Regions from separate parts of the Homo sapiens genome. Here all the other regions are linked to region 1. Evidence: fine-mapped expression QTL. A gene starts in region 1. Each other region holds a variant in brackets. All regions are shown on one strand. Distances are from middle to middle.

What was found. PIP is the estimated chance that this variant, and not a neighbour inherited with it, causes the effect.
Region 2: its variant is fine-mapped to the expression of VAT1L in tibial artery (GTEx, PIP above 0.99). The same link has a PIP of 0.9 or more in aorta and coronary artery.
Region 3: its variant is fine-mapped to the expression of VAT1L in cerebellum (GTEx, PIP above 0.99).

Annotation. Positions count from the first base shown.
Region 1 is chr16:77,785,149-77,793,500 of GRCh38, reverse strand. It overlaps VAT1L (vesicle amine transport 1 like), which reads right to left and starts at 4,937. Exons shown (of 9, transcript NM_020927.3): 1 at 4,586-4,937. The coding sequence starts at 4,818. All of the region lies in intron 1 of LOC107984878 (a long non-coding RNA gene), which reads left to right.
Region 2 is chr16:77,877,889-77,885,888 of GRCh38, reverse strand. VAT1L (vesicle amine transport 1 like) reads right to left here. Exons shown (of 9, transcript NM_020927.3): 6 at 6,665-6,720; 7 at 1,087-1,281. Among named protein-coding and RNA genes, the nearest start is that of VAT1L, 93 kb to the right of the region's middle. RefSeq lists an enhancer at 7,369-8,000. The variant C/T (reference allele first, on the strand shown) is at 4,337.
Region 3 is chr16:77,922,775-77,930,774 of GRCh38, reverse strand. The region is part of intron 7 of VAT1L (vesicle amine transport 1 like); the gene reads right to left. LOC105371351 (a long non-coding RNA gene) reads left to right here. Exons shown (of 3, transcript XR_007065123.1): 3 at 1-1,041. Among named protein-coding and RNA genes, the nearest start is that of CLEC3A, 96 kb to the left of the region's middle. The variant G/A (reference allele first, on the strand shown) is at 4,980.

The DNA of each region.
Region 1 (8,352 bases):
ACAAGACTGATAGCAGCAAAGGCACAGTTCTGACTTGTATCAGTTAGGGGCGAACCATACACCTTGGTTTGCCTAAGACAGTTCCAGTTTATGATTGTAGCTTCTCCTATGTAGGAGTAATTATAAATAGTGCCCCTTCTGCTTTCAGAAGAGGTTCAGTTTGTTTGAAACCAGCCTGAGCAACATAGACTCTGTCTCGACAAAAAATAAATTAAAAAAAAATTAGCTGGGCACGGTGGCACATGCCTGTGGTCCCAGCTATGCAGGAAGTCAAGGCAGGAGGATCACTTGAGCCAGGGAGATCAAGGTGGCAGTGAACCATGATCACACCACTGCACTTCACCTTGCGTGACAGAGCAAGACCCTGTCTCAAAATATAAGAGTTCCAGTTTGAATAATAAACTATATAAGTATCTATGGCAACCAAAAGTAAAAGTTTACATAATAATGGTTACCATTTTTTGACTACTTGCTATGCCTGTCTCAAAATACAAGAGTTCCAGTTTGAATAATAAACTAAAGTTTATACGGCAACCAAAAGTAAAAGTTTAGATAATAATGGTTATCATTTTTTGACTGCTTGCTAAGCACCAGGCATCCTTATAAAGGTCTTTGTATATGGCATGTCATTTAAGCTTCATTACAATACTATGAAGGGGGATGCTATTATAAAATGGATGCTCTATTTTATAGTCCGGGAAACAGAAGTTTGTTAACATGTTTTTAACAACAACATGGCCAAGGCCAACCAGAAGGCGTGGTTTGTACCTCACCCAGATCCTGTCTATGGGCAGGTGCCCATCCCCAAACTGCTGGAAGTGTTGGATGCTCAAGCCTCAGAGTCATCCCTTTCCCTAGAGAATTTTGCTCAGTCAGATAGAAGCCACTTCTGCTTGAGAGGCTCAATGTCCCCACTTAGAAAGTAGCTCACAGCCAATGACACACAAGGCTCCCTCTGTTCCTTGCTTCAAGGTGAGACTGACTCTGCAGTGGGATCCAGCTAAGACCACATCTTTGCTTAACTCCTTCCTCTTCCCTAGCCTGCTTCCCTTGCTCCCATAGTTCTAAAAGCACACTTTCAATAAACCACCTGAAAAAGGATCCCTGCGTCAGGTTCTGCCTCCAAGGAGCCAGACCTAAGACATCCAGTTAGCAAGTATCAGAGCTGGGACTCATGTCTAGGAAGCTCTCTTAATCACTAAGCAGATGTGACATGATATTGCCTATATTATATACATGATTAAAATGATGGCCTCCAAGTTGTAGGTCACCAAGCAGCATATATCACATTGGTTTAGATATGGCAACAACGACAGTCACAATGAATCCTACTTATTGAATGCTGACAACGCGGCAGTGTCTTTCTTGCATCTGATCCTTTCAACAATACCATGAAGTTCATTTTATTATCCCCACTTTGCAGATAATGTATGGGAAGTTTGGAGACACTGAGACACATCCCCCAGGGGCATATGGATAGGAAGAGATGAGGCTTAAGCTTATATTCAAGTCCCTCTCTCTTCAAGGGCCACATGCTTTTTCCACCTGGTCACTTAAACCTCTTGTTGCGTAAAGTATTCCATGAATAATTGGTGAAATCCATCTGCCATCAAAACTGACATTTTAAAAAACAATTTAGACAGAAGACTCTGCTATCATTCCAACCCTGACCCCAGCAACAGTTCTTTTTGAGCTGCATTTGACCAAAATGTCTCTACTTTCTGGAGAAAGCCATACTACTTTGGAAATAGCTAGAGAATATTCTCTTAAGCCAGACACAAAAAGAGCAAAGGAACCATCTTCGGTGGAGAAAGGAAAGAAAGTGAGACTGCATGCTAAGAGGGGAATCACATGTGCTAAGGCTTTTCCACCAAGGGAGACAAAAATGGAATAAAAGGAAAATAGCAAAAATATAAGGAGAATTAGATTCAAATCCTAAGTCTACTATTTTTTGATGTTTTTGGCAAATTACTCAATGTTTCCAAGCCTCAATTTGCTCTTCTGTTCTGTAGGAAAAATACCCATCTCACTGGCGCATTAATGAAAAAGGGTCCATGATATAAAATGGATATTTCTTCCTGCCTCATCTCTTCCATTTTCATAAAATTCATAGCCAACTTGGAACGTCATTCCAGGTCTGTCTAATACTGGTTCAAATGGACTATGCTTTATTCCAAGCAAAAAGCATATCCTATTATGACAAAAAGGTTTCTATTAAAAATAGAGAGCAGATAAAAGGGAGACCATCATCCAGGAAGCCATCGGCTGATTCATAAAAATACAGAATGAGTCATCCTGTATCCCAAGGCTAAAACTTATAATCAATGATCATGTCTGGCCAGCCAATCCCAGCCCAGAGGAGAAGGAGCTGCCCAGTGGGCCATTTACAAGCCTATTACAATCCTTCCTTGTAAAACCATTAACTCTGCTTCCAGCTTGGTGAAAGGAAAATCAATCTGGGCTGTTTGCAACACTGTATTCCAAATGTACCTGCAGCCTGGTTGGCTTTCTGAACAACTAGGGTCGGGGAAGTGCAGTGATTTCTGTGTGTGTGTGTGTAGCGCCACTGAAGAACAGGCTTTCACATCTGGCTTTGAAAATCAATCTCTTGGCCTTCATCTTGACATTTATTATTTCAAAATGCTTCAGTTCCTATCAGCAATTATGCAGTTAACATAAGACTGGAAAACACAGAACTATGTGTACTGCAGATGATGCTCTTTCCTTTAAAAAGTAGTTTTATCATTTTCCCTCTCTGAATATGTACTCTAGAATCCTAGAATCCCATCCTCAATTTGGATGAAGGGTCATAAATTACATACGCATACATATGCAACTGTATATATAATTGTATATATGTATATGCACATATATGCATAGGTGTGTGTATACAGGTAATTTTTTTTGATGAAGTGGTTAAGGAAGGAGAGTTCTAAATGCATGGTTTTAATTGTACTAAGCAAAAGCTCTTCCACCAGCAAGTAAAGAAAAATAATGACCCAACAATCCTCCTCCGAGCTCTTTCCTCAATCCATTCATTCAGCGATAACTTATTTAGGATGTGCAGTGGGCCAAACAGTGTGGGGTGGGGGAGTGGGCTGGTCTTTGGGGATTTAGCTGCGAAAGGGCAGATATAAGCTCTCCTTCTGGGATCAAACAACTTGGTTCAATAAGAGTTTATTGTACAGGATCCCCCGGTTTGCAAAAGCCTCTTCCCTTACCCGGAATTCCCCACAGAGACTCACGAGTCGTGTTCAGAGTCAAACCTGACCAGCTGCATATATGAGCAGCAAGGCAGGGATCAGCGGCTGCTTCTCCCACTAGCTGCTTTCTAATCTGGCCGATGAAACCTGCGTCTGTTCTCAAGGTGGTGAACGGGAGGGGACCCTCGTTTGTATTTCTCGTGCCTCTAGAGAGGTCCAGATATTGGGTTTCTGATCTAACCTAGAAGCTCGTGAGCTGGCTGCTGCTTTGGAGAGCAGTATGTACTGGGGGGCTCTAGAAAACAGATGGGAAGGAATAGGCTCGTCTCACCGTGATTAATAGCAAGTTCCCCTTACAAGTTTAACATGCAAACCTAGTGTTGGGTCCAGTCCGCCTCTGCTGGGTAAGCTCTTCCCAGAACTTCAGGGAAATTACAGTGCCCGCACACAGAGAGGCTTAAACTCTCCCCGGGAATTTCAGCTGAGCGTGAGGGCCTGGAGAAGTTCCCCCAGGGGGAATGGGGAATAGAGGGCAGCTTAGAGAGCTGAGCTCCTTCTGAGATGGGACCAGGAATTCCGGGGAGACTGATCAGGGTTTTTTCCCCTCTCGGAGAAACAGAGGATGGAGAGGGGCATGGAGGGGGTTGCGCTGCAGCCCTGGTCTCCACCCTCACCAAGCCTGGGTGCAAGGTACCGACCCTCTTCCTTCCTAGTTCCTTTCCCCGTCAGGCTACGGGGAAGGAAGTGGGCAGGAGGCGGGATCCAGCCCTGCACCCTGTCCCAGGCCCTTCAGGACAACAGCATAGAGGTGAAAAAAGATCATGTATCAAATTCCCGGCCAAGCCACTTAGTGGCAGCTGACTGATCTTGGGCAAATCACTCATTCTCGCTGAGCGGCGGCTTTCTTACCTGTAAACGGATCATGATGGCACCTGACTCATTAGGTCCCAGGAAGTATTAAATAAGATCGCACGTGTAAAACTACCAACGGCGGCTGGCACACAGTGGGCTTGCGGTTCTTAATACATATATTTTTAATTCTGTTAAGCATCAACCCTCCCGTGCGAAAGCTGAGTTGTCCTCTCAGACGGAGAACTCCCGTAGCGCAATCTTCCAGACCCGGGGTGCCTGGGCGCCAGCATTCTCCCCGCGCCCAGGAGCTCACATTCTCCTCCCGTCACCCCTAGATCTGGCTTGGGGAGGCCGCCCCTCTGCATCCTCCCCAGCTTTGGCCCGGGGAGGCTCTGAGACCCGGGTGAGGGCGCGGAGGGGGTGCGCGCGGCGGTTCTACCCGGGCAGCATCCCAGCCGCAGCTTTCCCACCCCCTCCCCAGCGCCCAGCGCGCAAAAAGAGAGAAAGCGAGAAAGGCGCGGATACTGGACCAGGCTTTGACGCGGATCTTGAGCTCGCCGTCCTGAGGCTCGGGCATGGCCTTCCTGAAGAGCCGCAGCTTGTTGAGCCCCCCGAAGCCAGCCAGCACCACCGCGCGCATCTCCTGGGCGTCCCCGAGGCGGTGCGAGCCGTCGCCGCCGCCGCCCTCCGCCGGCTCCTTGCCTGCCTCCTTCTCGATCATTTGCTCCGTCTCCTCCGCCTTCTCCACGCCTTCCTTGGCCATGGCGCTCGAGGGCGCGGGGCGCACGGGCTGCGGTGGCTGCGGTGGCTGCGGCGCTGGGGGAGTGGGGCTCCTCTCCCGCGGGTTCCTCCTGTTGAATGTGGGATGCTCGGCTGTGCAATGGCTGCAGCCTCTGCGAGCGCCGCCGCGGTCCACAGCCTCCGCCGTAATCCTCACAAGAGCCGTGCCCTAAGCGCTTCACCCCCGCCCCACCCTTCTTTCCTGTCCCAACGAAGCCTCAACTCCAGTTCCTGAAATAGTCCCAAGTTAGGGTCGGGATCGCGGCCCTAAACCCAAATTTGCCGAAGATCTGTGACTAAAACGAGCCTAGAGAGACCACCCTGTCATCCCCCTTCCTGTGGGCCCAGTACTTGGTTATATACGGCACAGGCTCGGGTGCCTTGAAATGGACCGAGACTAATGTCTGGGCCTGGAGGATGCCTTACCGCGACAAGGTTGCCCTCTCTCCCTCCCATCTTCGAGGCTGGGCGGGATAGTCGGGAAATTGGGTCGTTTCTCAAACAGCCAGTTTTGGGTGGAAGGGCGGAGAGGTTTGGGAAGCAGGGAACTAGAGATCCCGCTCACTGCCCTGAAGAGTCCAGTGCAGGGTCTTTTCACTCCAGACCTGCAGGGTCAGCCGGGATGCTCTTTGCTGGGTATCACCAGGGGCTTCCTTACGACGGCGAATTCTCACCACCCACACCATTTCGGGCTATTAAAGAGGCTTCAGACAAGAATCCTGTACCAGAAAGGATCCTGTTCGTGTTCTGATCCCCGGAAGACCAGTGTGTACCCGCTCCCCAACATGCATGCACATACACAGAGTAGTAACTGGCGTTTTGTTTTGTTATCAGGCTCTTTGAGAAAAACAGCTCATAGAAAAACTTGGAATTTCTGAAATAAAATAATGGGGAAGGACGTGGTTTTCCTAGGGGCAGTTTAAGGAAAGAGATGCAGGTGAGGAAGTAGGTCTATATTCTATTATAGTTGCTATGCCATTGCCAGCCTTGAGATCTTGGGCAACTCATTCAACCTTCCTGAGCCTCAACACACTCATCTATAAATTGGGTACATTGATTTTTTTTTCTATATTGTGTGAAGTGCTGGGGTGGACATGATTTCAGTGAGACATGGTCCTTATATTGGAAAAGGTCAATTTCAGAGCATGAGGCATGAAGGACACAGTCAACAAATGTGGTACAATGAATGATGTAAGTGCTGCCTCTTCTCTCCCCTCATTCTTCCTGTGCCTCACTGCTTTAAATGCCCTTGTCTTCTATTCCTTAAAAAAAAAAAAAAAAAAAAAAAAGACGATTGCCATTTTCCCTCCTTCCACAGGGTTCTGCACCTGCTGTCCCCTTGGCCTGGGGTATGTGTTCCATCTCCTTTATCTGGTGTTAACTCCTACTTCGTTCTCACCTCAAGGGTCCATTCCTGTTGGGAGGCACTCCAACCTCCAGATTGGTGTCCTCCCTGACTATAGACACTTATGTCCCTTTGTAGCCAACTTTTATATGTTTACCTGATAATATCTGTTTCCTTTATCCAACTGTGAACTTCATGTGAGCAGGAGCTATTTCTACTTTTATCCAGCGTGGTTTTCCCAGGGCTTAATACATGATTGGTACATAGTAGAATATGCACAGAGGCAGCCTGTTGAAAAACTGGTCCAGAGAGTTGGAGAAGTTCTCATGGAGGAGGGAACATTTGGGCTAGACCTTGAAGGATAAGGCAGGTTCTTCTGGCAGAAAAGGTCGCAAGCTCATTCAAATAACACAGAAAGGTAACAGGTAAAAGGGCTTTTGAGATTCTGGTTTGTTCTATGTAGGCAGAACATTGGCTGTATTTAGCAATCATTGGAGATGAGGCTGAAAGGTTTATTGGGACCAGCTTTTGAAAGTTCTCACATACCAGGTTATAAAATTTAAGACATAATCACAGAGGCAATTGGTGCCATAAAGGCTTAAAAAACAAAAACATGGGGAGAGCATTACCAGAACTGCATTTTAGGATAATAACTTTGACAGTAAGTGGGTGATGGATTAGATGATAGAGTTACTGGAAGCATCGAGATCAGTTAGAGACTAAGTGCAGGCAAAAAAAAAAAAAAATCCCCAAAAAGAAACAAAATAAATGAGAATGGTCCCAACTGAGGCAATGGCCATGGGATGGAAGGAAGAGGGCTAAAAGAAGCCTGAATAGGGCTTGGTTAGTGAATTGAACATTTTATTGTGAATCCAATTGTCCAAATTGTTTGTCTTGTTTACATTGTGAGATACAGTGTTTAGGCTGGATTCTGTCCTGAAACAAGAATTTGAACACCCGTCGTTTATTTTGGAAGTAATCCCAGGAAGCTCTGGCTGGGAAGTAGGAAAGTGAGACAGAAAATTGATACTACCCAATATGAGATGTATTAATAAGCAGATTACCGCAGTGGACAATTGGAGCTCAAACCCGCAGGGGACATTTGAGAGACAGTGTAGAACAAGTCTCAGAGTTGTCTCACCCAAGGAGTGAGGACATAGGTATTTATTCACTAAAGTCTATGCTTGATTGGTCAAGAACTGTTCCTGGAATTGTTAACTCCTTGACATTTCCATCCTGTCCCATGTACTTGGGCTGAGAGAATCCCCAGGCAGAGAATTGTGGATGCTCTTTGCAGGAAGCTATCATTTTATACATGGAATGATGAATTCCATGGAGACATAGCTTTGGCACCAATAATATCTGCAATATATGTTATTGTTTTGGAGGTGTCTACTGTTCTAGACACTGTAGGTATATTTCTTAATTTGATTCTGAAAATAATCTCATGAGTAAGAATTCCTATTCCCACTTTATGGAAGAGGAAAATGAAAATGAATCTTAACATGATGAATTATTGTGCTCAAAGGAACATGCTAGTTATAATGAGATAGAAGACCAACTCCAAATCTGTGCTCTTAAGATCTCATCATGCATGTTTATACGGACAGGCCAAACCAGTTCTGCCCCTGATTGACAATACTCCATGGCATTTTTTAATGTTCCCTGCTCTTTTTTTTCACCGCCTACTATCTCTGTACCACCAAGGTCCCTTGCCTTGGTTCTGAGTGTTTGTTTTCCTTTGGCATTAGTAAAGTAAACCCACTTTGTAGTCAGCACACAGCATGTTAAAGAGAAAGTGTTTGTCTTACAGTGTGTTAAAGGGAATATAATTACTCCCTCCAAGGGAATCTTCTGGCTGTTTACAAACCCCAGATTATAATTGGTAGGCAGCTGATTATCACAACAACCCAGAGAGAACCCACCACAGTCTGTGCTGCTTGTGGGGGGGTGGGGAGATACCCTCTTCTGAGTCCTATATACCACTATTGTTAAATATTCCCAACTCTGGTACTCCCTGGTGGAACGTGGAAAGAGCCACAGTGCATGGCATATCTCCAAATAAACACAATAAATCAATTTTTAATTTGTAAAATTGATTCCTTGGACATTCACTCAGAGCCTCCGTTGTGGAATTTCTTACATTATTGTAGAATAATGTGCATTATGTAC
Region 2 (8,000 bases), 93 kb before region 1:
GTTGTATTTGAATATACAGTGACCCCCAAAGAGCCTTTCTAGTGGTATTTCTGTGCTTAGAGAAGCCATTGGATTTGGGCCAATGTAATCGTTCAGGCAAACAGACACAGCCTTCTTGCCAGAAGCACACCCACTAGAACTTTCGTACTTGTTATTTTTTTAAAAAGTATTTGTGACTTGCAAAAGTACAACAAAGTACTTGTACCATAAGGCACTTCCCTCATGCAAAATGCAAAACAATGAAAAAAAAAACATTCCCACATATTTTAAAATATTTTTCAGGGGCGTCATGGCTCCCTGAAGCCAAGGCTAAGAAATCTTGACTTAGGTTTCTTAGCGAAATGCCTCTTAAAATCCAGGCCACATCTCTTCATTTCTTCTACAAGGAGCTGCCATTAACTGACTCCCCAAATGCCCAAACCTTCCCCTTACTTGAAGGATTTTCTAGACCCTGCCTTCTCCTAGCAAGGGCCATGTGAACCAATACAACCAGTTCATGCTTCAGTATCCTTCGAGGCTCCATTAGGGGTTCTTAATGTTCTTGTGATCAAGGAATGCTTCCAAATACTATAACTTTTGGAAGATCAACTAACAAAAAGACTCAATCCAACTTTAGACCCAACAATTCAGCAGTAATTCCAAAGTCCATCGTGATAGCTAATGTCTCATCGGGGCTCAAGGCATCCAGCGGAGCACACAAATCATTTTAGCTCAGATCACTGTCTGCTCTGACACTGATCTCTTATGTACTCACAAGGTGACAATATGTATGATGCCTCAACAATGTACACATGCTCTTGTAACCACACCGAATTGTAGACATTGATCAAAATTTGGTGGCCTTACCTGGGAAGGGTTCAGAGCACAAATGGTGTGATGAGGCACGTGGTTTGCAAATCACCAAAGAGCTTAAAGTATTTCTTATATCCAAAGTACTATTCTGTGGTACAGGTGACTTTTAGGACCCTCATTTAAAACAAACCCATCTGGGAAAAAAATCATTTAGTAGAAGATTGTATTTGGCTGCCCAAACCTTCCTGAGTTAAAAAGAGGAGTTTATTTGCAGAAGAAAAGCACCATTCTTACCTCCTCCAGAGCCCACAAGGAGTCCACCACAGGCTTGATCTTCTTCTGGTTGTAGAGCCCTATGAGTTTTTCCACCACTCCCCGAATGAGGCCCGCCCGGCCTTGTTTGAAGAGCAGATTTAAAAGGGAAAACCCCGCGATGACTTTGTTCTCCTCATACAGCTTGATGGGGTTCACCTTCTCCACCTGCCACCACTGCAAAGAGAGGTGGTATTGGGTTATAGGAACTCAATACCGGGGTTAAGCCTACATTGGCAGCATTGCTGATGTCATCAGCTACTACAGGGGGAACGTGGGGCTGCAGCTCAGCAGATTCCAGCTGGCCAAGGGGTTGCTCTTGGTGGTGTATTTTTTTATTTTATTTTTTATTTTTATTTTTTGAGATGGAGTCTCACTCTGTAGCCCAGGCTGGAGTGCAGTGGCATGATCTCAGCTTACTGCAACGTCTGCCTCCCGGGTTCAAGTAATTCTCTGCCCCAGCCTCCCGAGTAGCTGGGATTACAGGCGCCCACGACCATGCCCAGCTAATTTTTGTATTTTTAGTAGGGATGGGGTTTCACCATCTTGGCCAGGCTGGTCTTGAACTCCTGACCTCGTGATCCACCCGCCTTGGACAGTGGTGTATTTTTTTTAAAAGCATCTATTTTTCTAGGCACTGTTGCAAGTGCATGGGAAGCAATAGACATTGATGCTTATGAGACGCTCAGGTCTAAGTGGGAGAGAGAGCCCAAAACTAACTACATGGCCACATGTAGTTGAAATATTAAGTACATGGTCAGGATCATCAGCTCCGGACTTGAATCGTGGCTCTACAACGTTCTCTGTGATTAAGTATAAAGCACTTGGCTCAGTGAATGGTGGTGGTGATGATGGGGTTGTTAAAGGAACTAGGATGGCAGAAAAGTTTACACAATGTGGTGGGGAACATGATGGAGGTGGCCACTCTGACTGCAGAAGCAGCTTTCCTGGGGGAGTGGTTTTGATAAGGCTAAATCTGGGGAGGCGGGTAGGGATCCATCGGATGAAGAGGGAGGAGGGATGATTTAGGAAGAAGTAACAGCATGAAGAAATGATGAGGCCAAATTGTTGGGACTGAATCAATGGTTCTGAACTGGGGGTAGTTTTGTCCCCCAGAAGGCATTTGATATTGTTTGGGGATTTTTGTTTGTTTGTGATGACTGAAGCGGGAGGTGGTGCTACTGGCGTCTAGTGGGTGGAAGCCAGGGATGCAGCTAAACATCCCACAGTGCTCAGGACAAAGAATATTCACAGCAAAGAATAATCCACAACAAAGAATTACCCAGCCCCAAATATCCATAGCATTAAAGCCGAGATGCCCTGGACTAAAGTTCTGGGTGAAATACCTACAAACTATTTAATGTGGCCATCTCTTTTCCAGTCTGTCATCTCCTCCCTTCATATCAAAATAAGTAAATAATCCACTGGAAACCTAGAGAAATGGGGATCCAACTGCTTTGTTATGATTTAATTGCTTTTCCTTTGGTGCTGGTTATAGGTTAGAAATCCAAGCGTCCAGTTTCTGGGGGATTCTAGGGGATAAGATGTTCAAAATCATTTCAATACAGGATGCAAAGAGGAATGTGATGGGCATTTAGAAACATTGATAGCCTTTATGTTATCATTGAGCTCATTTATATCCTGTTTTCGAAAAGAATTAAGGAGACTGACTAAAGTGAAAATTTTTTATTTTTTTTAATTGGGAAGCTCGTGTCACTAGGAGAATAAGCATGGAAAAGGCAGGTTGAAAACAATGATGAGGTTCATATACAAAATTATTTACAAAAGCACATTCGGAGAGGGCCGGGGGACCAATAAGAGCCACGCATTTGACCTTAGGTTTCTTGGCTTTCAGTTTTGATGGTCTTACCTGGCAAGGGTTTGTGGCACAGATGGTGTGGTGAGGCATGTGGTTTGGAAATCACTAAATAACTTAACGTATTCCTTACATCCAAAATTCTATTCTATGGGACAGTGATTTTTAGGACCCTCATTTAAAACAAACCAACTTGGGAAATACAGCAAATATAGAAAAATAATAACTTGATTCACAGTGTATCTGCAATGCCTCAGTGAATGTTTGTGGAATGAATGCTTGCTGCAAATGTACAGTTGTGGTTAAGAAGGTTATAGAGCTGAATGCCTAGTTTTGAATCTCAGCTTTGTCACTTACTAGCTGTGTGACTTTAGGCAAATCTCTTAACTTCTCTGTGCTCAATTTCCTCACTGTTCCTCATGGGGTGGTTATGAGGAGTAAATGTGTTAATGCATATCAAGTGCTTAGCACAGTGTCTGCCACGCATGAGGTGCTCTATAAACATACACCACTTTTATTATCTTAATTTGAACAAGATGTTTTTGGTTTAGTGAATAAGAGCTCCAAATTTGGAGTCAGATTGCTCTGTAAATGTTAACTTCTTCTATTAGTATCATCATCGTTATGGTGTGAAAGAAAATAGCATGTTTGACAAATAGTGAGGCACAAACTGCAGCGATTTTAAGATGCAACATCATTAAGATAGCTGAGTGGGAAATTCCTGTATAATTCCAGTCGACCTTTAATTTCTAAGCCCTTCTTGAATACATTGAAAAATTTTTTTTCTAGGACTTTTCAGAGCAAAGTTCCACCTCTTCGTAGGCCCTCTCTTCAGTTTTCTTCCAAATGACCCTCAGTGTTTGAGCAGGCCTCTGAAAGAAAACATCCTCATTCTTGACCTCCAGGTACAAAGCGTTCTGGAAATAGGAACCCCTGCTTTGGGCAGAGGAATCTCCATCCCCATCCTGGCTGTGCATTTATGAATGCCTTCATTGAGCATGGGCACGCTGCAATTATTTCATTAACACTGTGTGTTGGGATTGTGCATTTAGAGGAGAAAGGGAAAACACTTCTTACAATTGTATGTAATTTGGGACCAGTGTGGTTACCCACAGCAGTCTGTCAACATCATGTTAATTACAGCCACAGCAACAGAGCAGCTGTGCATGGCACAAAGCCTGTCTTCAGGGGACACACTCCAGACAGCATCCTTCATTACACTCCATTCTTGCTCCTCCTGTCGGTTCTGTAGTTAGGATGATCCTTGACCCATATTTTAAAGCCCAAATGCAAAGAGAAGACCTTTGATTTGAATCTCACAAATGCAGGGAGTATTATCCATTCCAGAATGTTTGGGGCTGATGTTTCTGGAAGCTGATGTTGGCACTTTGAGGGCATATGAATAGCACATAGTGC[C/T]ATACTTAGAATGAATTCCAAACTCCTTACCATACTTTTCACTGACCACTTTGTTTTAATTGCCTCCACCCACCCTGCTATTTTCTATTTTAGCACTTGATTTTTATCCTCTTCAGAGGTTTAATAGCCATTTATAATCATGTTAATTAACATATCTTGCTTATTTTGGGTTTGTCTCCCTCATTAGTATATAAGAACCAAAAAGGCCCAAAGTGCACCTATCTTATGTGCTGTAATAGCCCAGTGCTTGGCACAATACCACAAACAGCAGGTGCTCAGAAAATGCCTGTCAAATGAGTGGATCAATTGACGCTGCACTGGCACATAGAAGTCCAAAAGTAGAGGGGGCAAAAATAAACCCTTGTGAAAAGCAGCAATCCCCTGTTGGGGAGGGGTAAAAATAAAAGTTCCTACCATTTGACCCAGCAGTCTCATTACTGGGTATATATCCAAAAGAAAGTAAATCGTTCTATCAAAAGGACACATGCACCCGTATGTTCATTGCCATTCTATTCACAATAGCAAACACATGGAATCAACCTAGGTGCCCATCAATGGTGGACTGGATAAATAAAATGTGAGACGTATACACCATGGAATACTATGCAGTCATAAAAAAGAATGGAATCATGTCCTTTGCAGCAACGTGGATGCAGCTGGAGCTCATTTTCCTAATCAAATTAATGCAGAAACATAAAAACAAATACTGCATGTTCTCTCCTAAGTGGGAGCTGGGTACTCATGGACATAAATATGGGAACAGTTAACACTGCAGACCACTAAAGGGGACTGGGAGGGGGGCAGGGGTTGAAAAACTATTGGGTACTATGCTCACTATGTGAATGAGAGGATCATTTGTACCCCAAACTTCAGCATCATACAATACCCGGGCAAAAAACCTGCACAGGTACCTCCTGAATCTAAAAAGTTGAAATTACTAAAAAAAAAAAAAAAAAAAAAATACCCTGGAACGTGCGAAGAAAAAAAAAAAGCAACATGGGCTGGTGCTGGTGTACTGGTGGTTCATTTCAAAGAAGAGAAGGAATTTGGGCTGGGGAAGGGGTGTTGAAATGATATTTAAAAAACTAAGTTTGGCCGAGTACGATGGCTCACACCTATAATTCCAGCACTTTGGGAGGCTGAGGCAAGCGGATTGCTTGAGCCCGGGAATTCAAAACCAGCCTGGGTAACAGGGTGAAACCTTGTCTCTACCAAAATAAATACATAAATTCGCTGGGTATAGTGGCACACACCTGTAATCCCAGCTACTTGGGAGGCTGAAGCAGGAGGGTTGCTACAGCCCAGGAGGTGGAGGTTGCAGTGAGCCGAGACCATGCCACGGCACTCCAACCTGGGTGACAGAGCTAGACTCGGTCTCAAAAAAGTTCAAGCCAACATCAGTATAATTCTAGCAAGTATAGCTCCAGATAGGAAGATAGATCAGAGTCAATTTGTAGTGAGGTGAATGCCCAGGGATGTCGCTTTGCAATGGCCGACAAACTAACCACCATATTGAAAGCATGATCACCCAAGAGAGTGGTTCATGAGCTTGTCTGAGTCTACAAGTCACCTCAGGATCTTGTTAAGGTCATAGGGTCCTCATTTCTATCTCCGATTCAAGAGGATGGGGAGACAGAGAAATCTCAAGTACCCCCAGAGACCTGGTCAGAAAGTAGCAAAGTGAAAGGCTGGCCGCTCTATGGAGCAAAGAAAATGCACTAATGCTAAGTTCATTTTTGACCAATAATTAAAGACACCAACACTTAAGCAATTTTGACTGAAATAAAGCTGTAGCTTTCTTGAGTTTCTCTGACACTCCCACCTCTCTGTTTCATTTAGACAAAAGTAGTCTAAATTCTGGTCCTGACCATTTGCAGGGAATAGGGCAGGAGTGCAGGTTTTATGGGAAATGAACGAGGAAATTGAAAGACAAGATTAAGTCAATGCCTTATGATAGAAGAGCTCACAGCTGGGTGCGGTGGCTCACGCCTGTAATCCCAGCACTTTGGGAGGCTGAGGCGGGCAGATCACGAGGTCAGATTGAGACCATCCTGGCCAACACGGTGAAACCCCGTCTCTACTACAAATACAAAAATTAGCTGGGTATGGTGGCGCATGCCTGTAATCCCAGCTACTAGGGAGGCTGAGGCAGGAGAATCGCTTGAACCAGGGAGTCGGAGGTTGCCATGAGCCGAGATCGTGCCATTGCACTCCAGCCTGGTGACAGAACGAGACGCTGTCTCAAAACAAACAAACAAACAAAAACAAAGCTCTCAACATGTGAATCAACATGCCACCACAGTACATCAGATGTGCCTGGATACTTACTGATTTTGCAAAGCTGAAGAAGCTCTTGGTCTCTCCAGTTACCATGTTGGATGAGCCTGAAAATGAAAGATTCCCACATTAAGCAATTGCTAATGAAAATGGACATCTCTTGTTATGCATGAAAAAAATGGCAATTGTTTGGTCCGGAACTGGAGAAATCTTGAAAACAAATTTAATTAAGCCTTGGCAAAGTGAGGGGAATGAGAATGAGGCATAAAGTTGACTATGTTAGCTGACTGTCCCTGATCAAAGAGAAAGTGACATTTCTCATGATGACCGTCTTATTACTTTGCAAAATTTGGCATATAGCAAAAATATGATGTAGGCCAACGTTTGAATAAAATGATGAGTTGCTGAAATGTCTTTTTAGGTCTGTTCTTTGAGGCTGAGAAAGGAACTCCTTAGTGAATCTACTTTGTGATTCTGAATTTGATTCCCCAGCAAGTGAGGGGCTTGGGGCTCTGACCTGGACTGGGTACCTAAATGGTGGGAGAGGTGGAGCAGAGTTAAAATATAGATGGATTGGAAAAAATGGGTATAGAAGCTCACAGGTGAGAATGAAAAGGGGCCCAGGGACCAAAGAAATGGTGTGATCCATGTGTCAGCTCCAAAGAGGTCTGAGACAAGCATATGAGAAACTGAGTTTTGCCAATTGGACAAGCAGTATTCAGAGGGCAGATGGGAGGTGGAGTTGGGAAAGATTCCCTAAGATTCTCATACGGAGAGTAAAGACCCTTTATAAGGTTTCGGGGCAGGGGAGGGGGGAATGAGAGAGCTCTTAACAGTATGGGGAACATTCAAATACCATACAGGTGCTTTTTCAACAACTTTCCTGCCTTGTCTTCAAAGATTTTGGAGTAATTTCTTCTCAGAGAGGAGTTATTTAATAAAATAGTCATGTGTATTTTACACTATTTAGCCTGGGTAAACTAGTAGCCAGTTAATAAGTTGGTGCAAAAGTAACTGTGGTTTTTGCCATTACTTTTAATGCCGAAGACTGCAATTACCCTTACACCAGCATAATAGTGAACCATTGCTTCTGTTTTTATGGGGTGAGTACCACGGGGCATCCCAGTACTAGACTTTGATTAATTAGTGACCAAGTGATCAACGTAATGAAGTAGATAATTGTGAACTACTCACATGGGATTAATCAAGTTGAATTTCACCAAAATGACATCAAGAAACTGGGACAAAAATAGAATTATTGGTAAATGATAAGTAAGGATGACTACATCGTCCATCTGCATTTGACTCACATGTTAGTCATATCCGATATCCTTGCAACGTGCAGGGACTCTCACTGATAATAATAAACCACACGTCCACTTCAAAG
Region 3 (8,000 bases), 140 kb before region 1:
CATGCCCCCTTGAACAACTCTGCATGTTGGAGCAGGCCAAGAGGAGATGTCCATTTCCTGGGAAGAAGACTGAAGGTTTTCTTAACAGTGGGGGCTTTCAACACCCTGAGATTAGGATTATCCAACCACCAAATGATGATCCATACCTTGCAGAGGGTTTTATTGAGTGCTACGGAACCTACCTTGAGATATAAGCGGGGCACGGGCCCTGGAACCTGTCAAGAACGTTGAGTCCGGATTGAGAGTCTCTTTGAGTTTGATTCAGCGAGGGGTTATCTACCTCACACCTCCTTCCGTACCAGTCTTACCTGCCACTGCAGAGAGCCATTCAAAGGACAGGGCCAGACTAAATTCCTGTGGGCCCTTCTCCCCGAGGTAAGAGATAGGATCAATGGATGGGGTAGGTGGAATTGGCCATTGTTTGGAAACAGCTAAGCCATGTCCCCCCAAAGAACATCAGTAATGATACTCATGGGAGAGACCTAGTGGCTTTCACTGAGGCCATGCATGACCAGGAAAGACAGACAATACAGGCTAGGGGTCGAATTCAGTGGTTCATCTCAACAACAATAAGGAATATGTGTTGGGGGTGGGTGCTTGTGGTTCATTCCAAGGAAGACATGGAATATGGGCTGGAAAGAGGGGTGTGGGTGGTTTGTTTCAAGAAGGATACGAAGTTTGGGCTGGAAGGTAGGTCCTTCTAAAAGGGATAAGGAGTATGGGCTATGGGTATTGGTTGGAGGTTCATTTGGAAATAAGACATCTTTTCTGGAAAGGCACGCAGGAAGAAAAATATATCATGTTGAAGAGGACAGTGACTTGGAGAACTCGCTGTGTTGCCCAGGCTAGTCTCAAACTCCTCCACTCAAGTAATCCTGCTGAGGCCTCCCAAAGTGCTGGGATTACACACCCAGCCAGAGGGCAGTTTTTGAGTTACTGTGCTAACTTCCGATACCAGTTCTTCCACTTATTATCTGGGTCTCCTCGGACAGTTTGCTTAACCTGTAAATGTTTCATCAAATATAAAATGGGGATAATTCCAACACCTACCTCATGTCACCTTGTGAGTATTTAAGCATGTAGTGAGGGGGAGAGTGGCCTTTGTTTCTTTCTGTGAGGGCTCTCTATCTCACCAAAGCATTCCCATCTGACTCCCTATCTGTCACCCTCTCCGTCCTGAAAATGTTAGTGTCTTGAGATATGTTGACTATTTGGAAAAATGGGGCTCTTTTCTTCCACTTGAAATTACATTTATATTTTAAATGTTCTCTGGAATACATCCATGATTTGCTGGAGCTGAGAATTGCTAATAAGGCTTTATTTATGAAGTATTAAACACTGAAGGAAATTCAGCTTGTCTTGAAACTCCCTAGGGCCTAATACAAATACATGTACCTAAAAACACATGCACAGAGGGCTCATATAACTCCTCTTTCTACCAGTGTTGAGAAAATGTTGCCAATCTTTCACTAATGATCCCTGCCTGGAAGAGAGTATCCCGCTGTTCAGGCAGTACTAAGTCTAGAGACTCATTATTGAAGGAGAGGGGGAATTTCTGGAGACAAAGAAAAATGTCGCGTTCCATCAATCCAGAGAATGCAGAGCTCAAATAGAGAGCATTCAAAGTACATCAGTATCACACAGCATAAAAATAATAGAGCGGCTAGGCACGGTGGCTCACACCTGTAATCCTAGCACTTTGGGAGGCCAAGGGGGCGGATCACGAGGTCAAGAGATCGAGACCATCCTGGCCAACATGGTGAAACCCCATCTCTACTAAAAATACAAAAACTTTTACCGGGGCATGGTGGTGCGCACCTGTAGTCCCAGCTGCTCGGGAGGCTGAGGCAGGATCGCTTGAACCCGGAAAGGGGAGGTTGCAGTGAGCTGAGATTGCACCACTGCACTCCAGCCTGGTGACAGAGTGAGACTCCATCTCAAAAACAAACAAACAAACGAAAATAGAGCATACTGGCACAGTGACTTAGAAGACTTCAACAGTCATTTAAAAAAAAAATTCTTACTCTCCTGACACCCCCATCAATTTAAGACATTTTGTGTAATTGTTTTTGTTACTGATTTTGGTGAGTAATATGAAACACGTCATTTACGAGGGGCTTGCTTTCAAATCTTATTTCCTTGATTACAGAAATTTCTTTAAATATCACTATGGTCAAGGGGAGGGCTACAAATGCCTTATTTAAGAGGAAATGTTGGTTGTCACATCACATCCAAGATAGCGGTTTCTGAGATGACAGTTATGGAAGATTCAGCTATGACTTTTGTCTCTCACAGGATAGTGTTATGAAAAATCTCAATACTTGATCTTTTAAAAGATGAGTGACCATCTCCCTCCATCCCTGAATTCTCCCCCAACCATGATGGAATAATCATAAGAGAGAAATAATAGCAGTCACAATAGCAGGATTAGCAAACAGCTGAGTTTTTACAAGTGTGTTAAGCAATTATGTAATTTTTCTCATTTAGCATTCTCCACACACACATTTGCTAGAGGGAAGCCTGGTGACCAGAGAGATGTTGGCTTCCCTGGGACTTCTCAGGTCACAAATGAACCAGAGCCAGGTCTTGCTCTGGTTCATCTTTACAAAAGGAGGCCAGCTCTGGGGTCTTTGATTGAACTAAACAATATTAAAATGACTTTGTCAATAAGGCCTGCTGTGAAAATGGCCCACTTGAGCCCAGTAGACACTGAAGATACTGCATTGTTTTATTATTCTGATATTGTATGGAAGAGGCATCCCATCCTAATGGGAAGGATTGAATTAGAGGTCAAATGACTTTTGATTTCCATGCAGAAAGAGAGTCAGAACTGTAGATCAGGGATACTAGTGGTAAGAATTTTCAAAGGAAATTGAAAAGTTTATTTATTTATTTATATTTATTTATTTTGAGACGGAGTCTCTGTCACCCAGACTGGAGTACAGTGGCGTGATCTCGGCTCACTGTAACCTCCACCTCCCGGGTTCAAGCGATTCTCCTGCCTCATCCTCCCGAGTAGCTGGGACTACAGGCGTGTGCCACCACACCCGGCTAATTTTTTAGTAGAGACGGGGTTTCACTGTGTTAGCCAGGATGGTCTCGAACTCCTGACCTCATGATCCGCCCACCTCAGCCTCCCAAAGTGCTGGGATTACAGGCAAAAGCTACCGCGCCTGGCCAAAGTTTTTCAATTTTTTTGAGGTGCAAATCAGGACAGGCGGCCTGATGCAAATGAATGGGTGTACCTAGGGTGGCCATAGGATGACAGCAAAAGCTAGTGGCTAAAGAGTGCAGATTCTGGAGATGGATCAATTGGTTTTGATCCTGTTTGTACTTCTTACTAGTTGCTGAGCCTCAGTTTCTTCATCTGTAAAGTAGGGACAACAGTAGTACTCACTATATGCAAAGCCCTCCCAACAGTGTTTTTTTTTTTTTTTGAGATGGAGTCTCGCTCTGTCACCCAGGCTGGAGTGTAGTGGCGCGATCTCGGCTCACTGCAAGCTCTGCCTCCCAGGTTCACGCCATTCTCCTGCCTCAGCCTCCTGACTAGCTGGGACTACAGGTGCCCGCCACCACACCTGGCTAATTTTTTGTATTTTTAGTAGAGATGAGATTTCACCATGTTAGCCAGGATGGTCTCAATCTCCTGACCTGGTGATCCTCCTGCCTCGGCGTCCCAAAATGCTGGGATTACAGGCGTGAGCCACCGCGCCGGGCCATAACAGTGTTGATGTGTACTAATTCCTCAGGAAATAGCCTATGACTGTTATGTTGTCTTCTACATTCCTAACCAGAGAGGTAGCATATGTAAATGTGTAATGGTCCTTGACAATCTGGAGGAAGTGATTGGTGGATTTCTAACTTCAGGGGTAGCCACGATAGAGTGGCCCAAGAAGCCAGAGTCTCTTTCTAGGTCACATGTGGAAGGAGGGAGGGTGTCCCCACCAAGGGAGACTGCAAGCGGAATGGGACATGTCTGTGTCTCAGTGCTGGAAACAAAGGCTCAGCCAGAGTTCTAGAGGGGGCAGTGATTTGCTCAGAAGAGTCATTAGTGGGGCATAGAGGTTGGTGAGGACTGTGAAGTCAACCTTAGTTTTTATCCTGAAATACTCTTTAGAAAACCTGGCCACACTTCCATGTCCTTAATCAACCACCGTATCTTTTAGCTCTTACCCCTACTTCTACTTTTTTTGAGATGGAGTCTTGCTCTGTCACCCAGGCTGGAGTGCATGGTGCAGTCTCAGCTCATGGCAACCTCTGCCTCCCAGGTTCAAGCGATTCTCCTGTCTCAGCCTCTTGAGTAGCTGGGATTACAGGCGCCTGCCACCACACCCTACTAACTTTTGTATTTTTAGTAAAGATGGGGTTTCACCATGTTGGCCAGGCTGGTTTCGAAACACCTGTCCTTAGGCGATCTGCCTGCCTCAGCCTCCCAAAGTGCTGGGATTACAGGTGTGCACCACCGTGCCTGGCCCAACTCCTATTTTATTACTCCTATTTTTTTTTTTTTTTTTTTTACTTTGAGACGGAGTCTCACTCTGTTGCCCAGACTGGAGTGCAGTGGTGCGATCTCGGCTCACTGCAAGCTCCGCCTCCCGGGTTCACGCCACTCTCCTGCCTCAGCCTCCTGAGTAGCTGGGACTACAGGCGCCCGCCACCATGCCTGGCTAATTTTTAGTAGAGACGGGGTTTCACAGTGTTAGCCAGGATGGTCTCGATCTCCTGACCTCGTGACCCACCCGCCTCGGCCTCCCAAAGTGCTAGGATTACAGGTATGAGCCACCGCACCCGGCCCCGACTCCTATTTTTTAATGACAGATTATCAGCAGTAAAGGATCAAATGCATACATGCCATTGATCACTCAAGGACCCAATAAAGCATCTAGGCAGCTTCATGGTCAAGGACTTTCAAAGCCAGAAGCAGGGGGAGGTGGGGGGAATTAAAGGAAGATGCTGCTTCTGGCTTTTTATGTTGTTTG[G/A]TAGATTTCTCAAAAGGCACTTTTCTGTAACCCAGCAACAACTCTGCAGGATCACCATCTATTTTATTCTTTCAATTTCCTGTAGTCTCTCTAGATTTTACGTCATCTGCAGAACGAGGGAAAAGCAAAATTGATTTTAGGAAGGGAAACTGTAAAAACAGTTCTGGGCTAGCTAGTCTCATCTCCTGCTGAGTTCATTTTATTAAAGGAAGCAGTGAAAACGCTAGAACGTGGAAAGCTGAAATAATCTTTTGTTCTTATATTGACTCTGGGCAGAGAAAAGCAATATTGATTGAAGCGCCATTGCATATATGGACCTCTTTAATACCCCGAAACAACCCTTTCCACTAAGGGGTATTATTAGCTTGATTTTGTAAATGGTAGGCTGAAACTCAAGCCACTTGATCGAGGTGAAATTAGTGACTATTTGGTAAAGCTGGGATCAAATTCACATTTGTCAGATTCAGATAACCAGAAGGGGTAGATGGTTTGGCCAATTCTGCAACCAGGGCCAGGACTAGGCAAGAGAAAGACCAGGGGGTGTAAAATTTAAGGAGGCCCTCACTCTCCAGGCTGCACGTGAACCTGAGAGTGAGTGCCTCCTTAAATTGTGTACACTAGGTACCTTGCTTGCCTGACCCTAGTGTGCCCTGGCAGTAACCATTGCTTGGTGGTAGGGAAGGCAAAAGCTACTAATTTTGAGGACTACCTATAAGCTGAACATTCCATGAGGAGCTTTACATAACGGACCACCCATGTTCTCAAAAGCCTTGTGGGTGAGTATTCTTACCTTTAATGCATACACTATTAGACAGAGATAGTTTTACATATCTTAATTCTTATGGAAAGGGCCATGTATTTGGAAAGAAATCCTTTAGTAAAATGAAAAGGTACAGAGACTGAGCTGGCTATCTCTCTACCCAGGGCTTAGGTAATTTATTTGCTGATATTCTTGAGACATTACCCTGCTAGACAGAGGGGGAAAAATTGAAGGTCTTGGAGTCTGGGTTGAGGGGATATGAAAATAAGGGTAAATGGGCCAGGCGTGGTGGCTCACGCCTGTAATCCCAGCACTTTGGGAGGCCAAGGCAGGCAGATCACTTGCCAGGAGTTCAAGACCAGCCTGGCCAACATGGTGAAACCCCGTCTCTACTAAAAATACAAAAAATTAGGTGGGTGTGGTGGCATACGTATGTAATCCCAACTACTTGGGAGGCTGAGGCAGGAGAATCGCTTGAATCTGGAAGGCGGAGGTTGCAGTGAGCCGAGATTGTGTCACTGCACTCCAGCCTGGATGACAGAGCAAGACTCTGTCTCAGGAAAAAAAAACAGTGGGGAGGAAGGAAAATAAGAAGTGGGTGGAAGCTTGGAGAAGGCTGGGAGTTTGTGCATTTTGATGTGCTCATTCCCGGCTCTCATACACTAAAGCTTAAAATGCCTGATATGTGTGCCAGGGAGGGGCATCTTATGGGACCCAGTGAAGAGGCTGAGCTTGATGCTGGGGTGGTCCTGCATGAAAAAGAGATCCTGCCTGCAGTCATGAGGAAAACCTCCAGATCATAAGCCCTAGAAAATAGCAAATATTGAAGGAAGAGTTTCAGACTTTCAAAGACCACAACATTGACTCGGGGGTGTCTGAGTCAATATAGCTTCTCCGGGAGAAAGGGGGATGCCAGCTGACATCTGTATTATGTACACATGGAGACAAGGAGGTTCAGAGATGTTGAATCAGTTGCTCAGTGTCTCACAGCTGGTAAGAACCAGTGGGGATGCAACTTCTTGTGTGTCTAGTTTCAGAGCTGCATAAATAGATTTCCTCATCTTTACTGGGGGAAGGGAGGGGGGGAAGGCAGACCCCAGACCATGAGGGAGAAATCCAAGCTTGTGGAGAGACAGTCAGCTTGACAAATGGGTCCTGTACACACCAGTGTGTCGGCTGCTAAGCTCATATGAGCTATCCTGGGATGGTTTTCACAGCAGCTTTTGTTTTGTTTTGTTTTGTTTTCCTCTCTCCCCAGTGTAGTGAAGGCACTTTGTTTTCAAAAACTGTGTGAAGCCACCCTGGGTACCAACTTTGAGAAAGAAGCAGGCTTGGGAGAAGCCTTTGTCCATCTCCCTCACTTTACAGATTGGGAAACTGAGGCCCGGAGGAGAAAGCTGTGTGACTAGGCAGGAGGCTGGCTTCTGAAAAATACCAAAGAAATTCTACAGAAGTCCAACAGAGAGTAGAAAAAACCTGATAGGTGAGGATGCTGGCTTAATTTTGTTAACATCAATCTTTCCAGGGACCAAGATTTTAAGACCTGATTCTGGGCCCCTGAGTTTATTCCATTCATTCATTCATCCATGACAGAGTCTTGCTCTGTCTCCCAGGCTAGGATGCAATGGCATGATCTTGGCTCACTGCAACCTCTGCCTCCAGGGTTCAAGCTATTCTCCTGCCTCAGCCTCCTGAGTAGCTGGGACTACAGGTGCGCGGCACCATGCCCAGCTAATTTTTTGTATTTTTGGTAGATACGGGGTTTCACCATGTTAACCAGGATGGTCTCGATTTCCTGACCTCATGATCCACCCACCTTGGCCTCTCAATATGCTGCAATTACAGGCGTGAGCCACTGCGCCCAGCCAAAGTTATTCCTTTTAACGGATGTTCAGAATTGTCCTCCAGAAGCCGAGGTTCGGGGGGTCACACAGGTTGCAGGGTCTCCTGCTGAAGGAGGAATTGAGAGCTGGGAGAACTCTCCAAAGCCCACCACTGTGGCAAGGAACTGCTGACTTTTAACAGGCTGCAAGGTACAGTGGTGGCTCTGAAGATTTAGTGCTTGTAGACGTCAACGAAGATTGAACAAACAGGTCTGGGTTGAGGTCCCGGAATCTGCATTATAAAGCTCCCCAGGAATTCCAACTCAGGTGGTTCACAGTGCACACTTTGAGGGCCACTGGCACAGTGAGAGTGGCATGGGTTGGAAAGTCAGGCAAACTTAGGTTTAAATCCTGGCTCCATGGGGAGGGGGTTTCAGC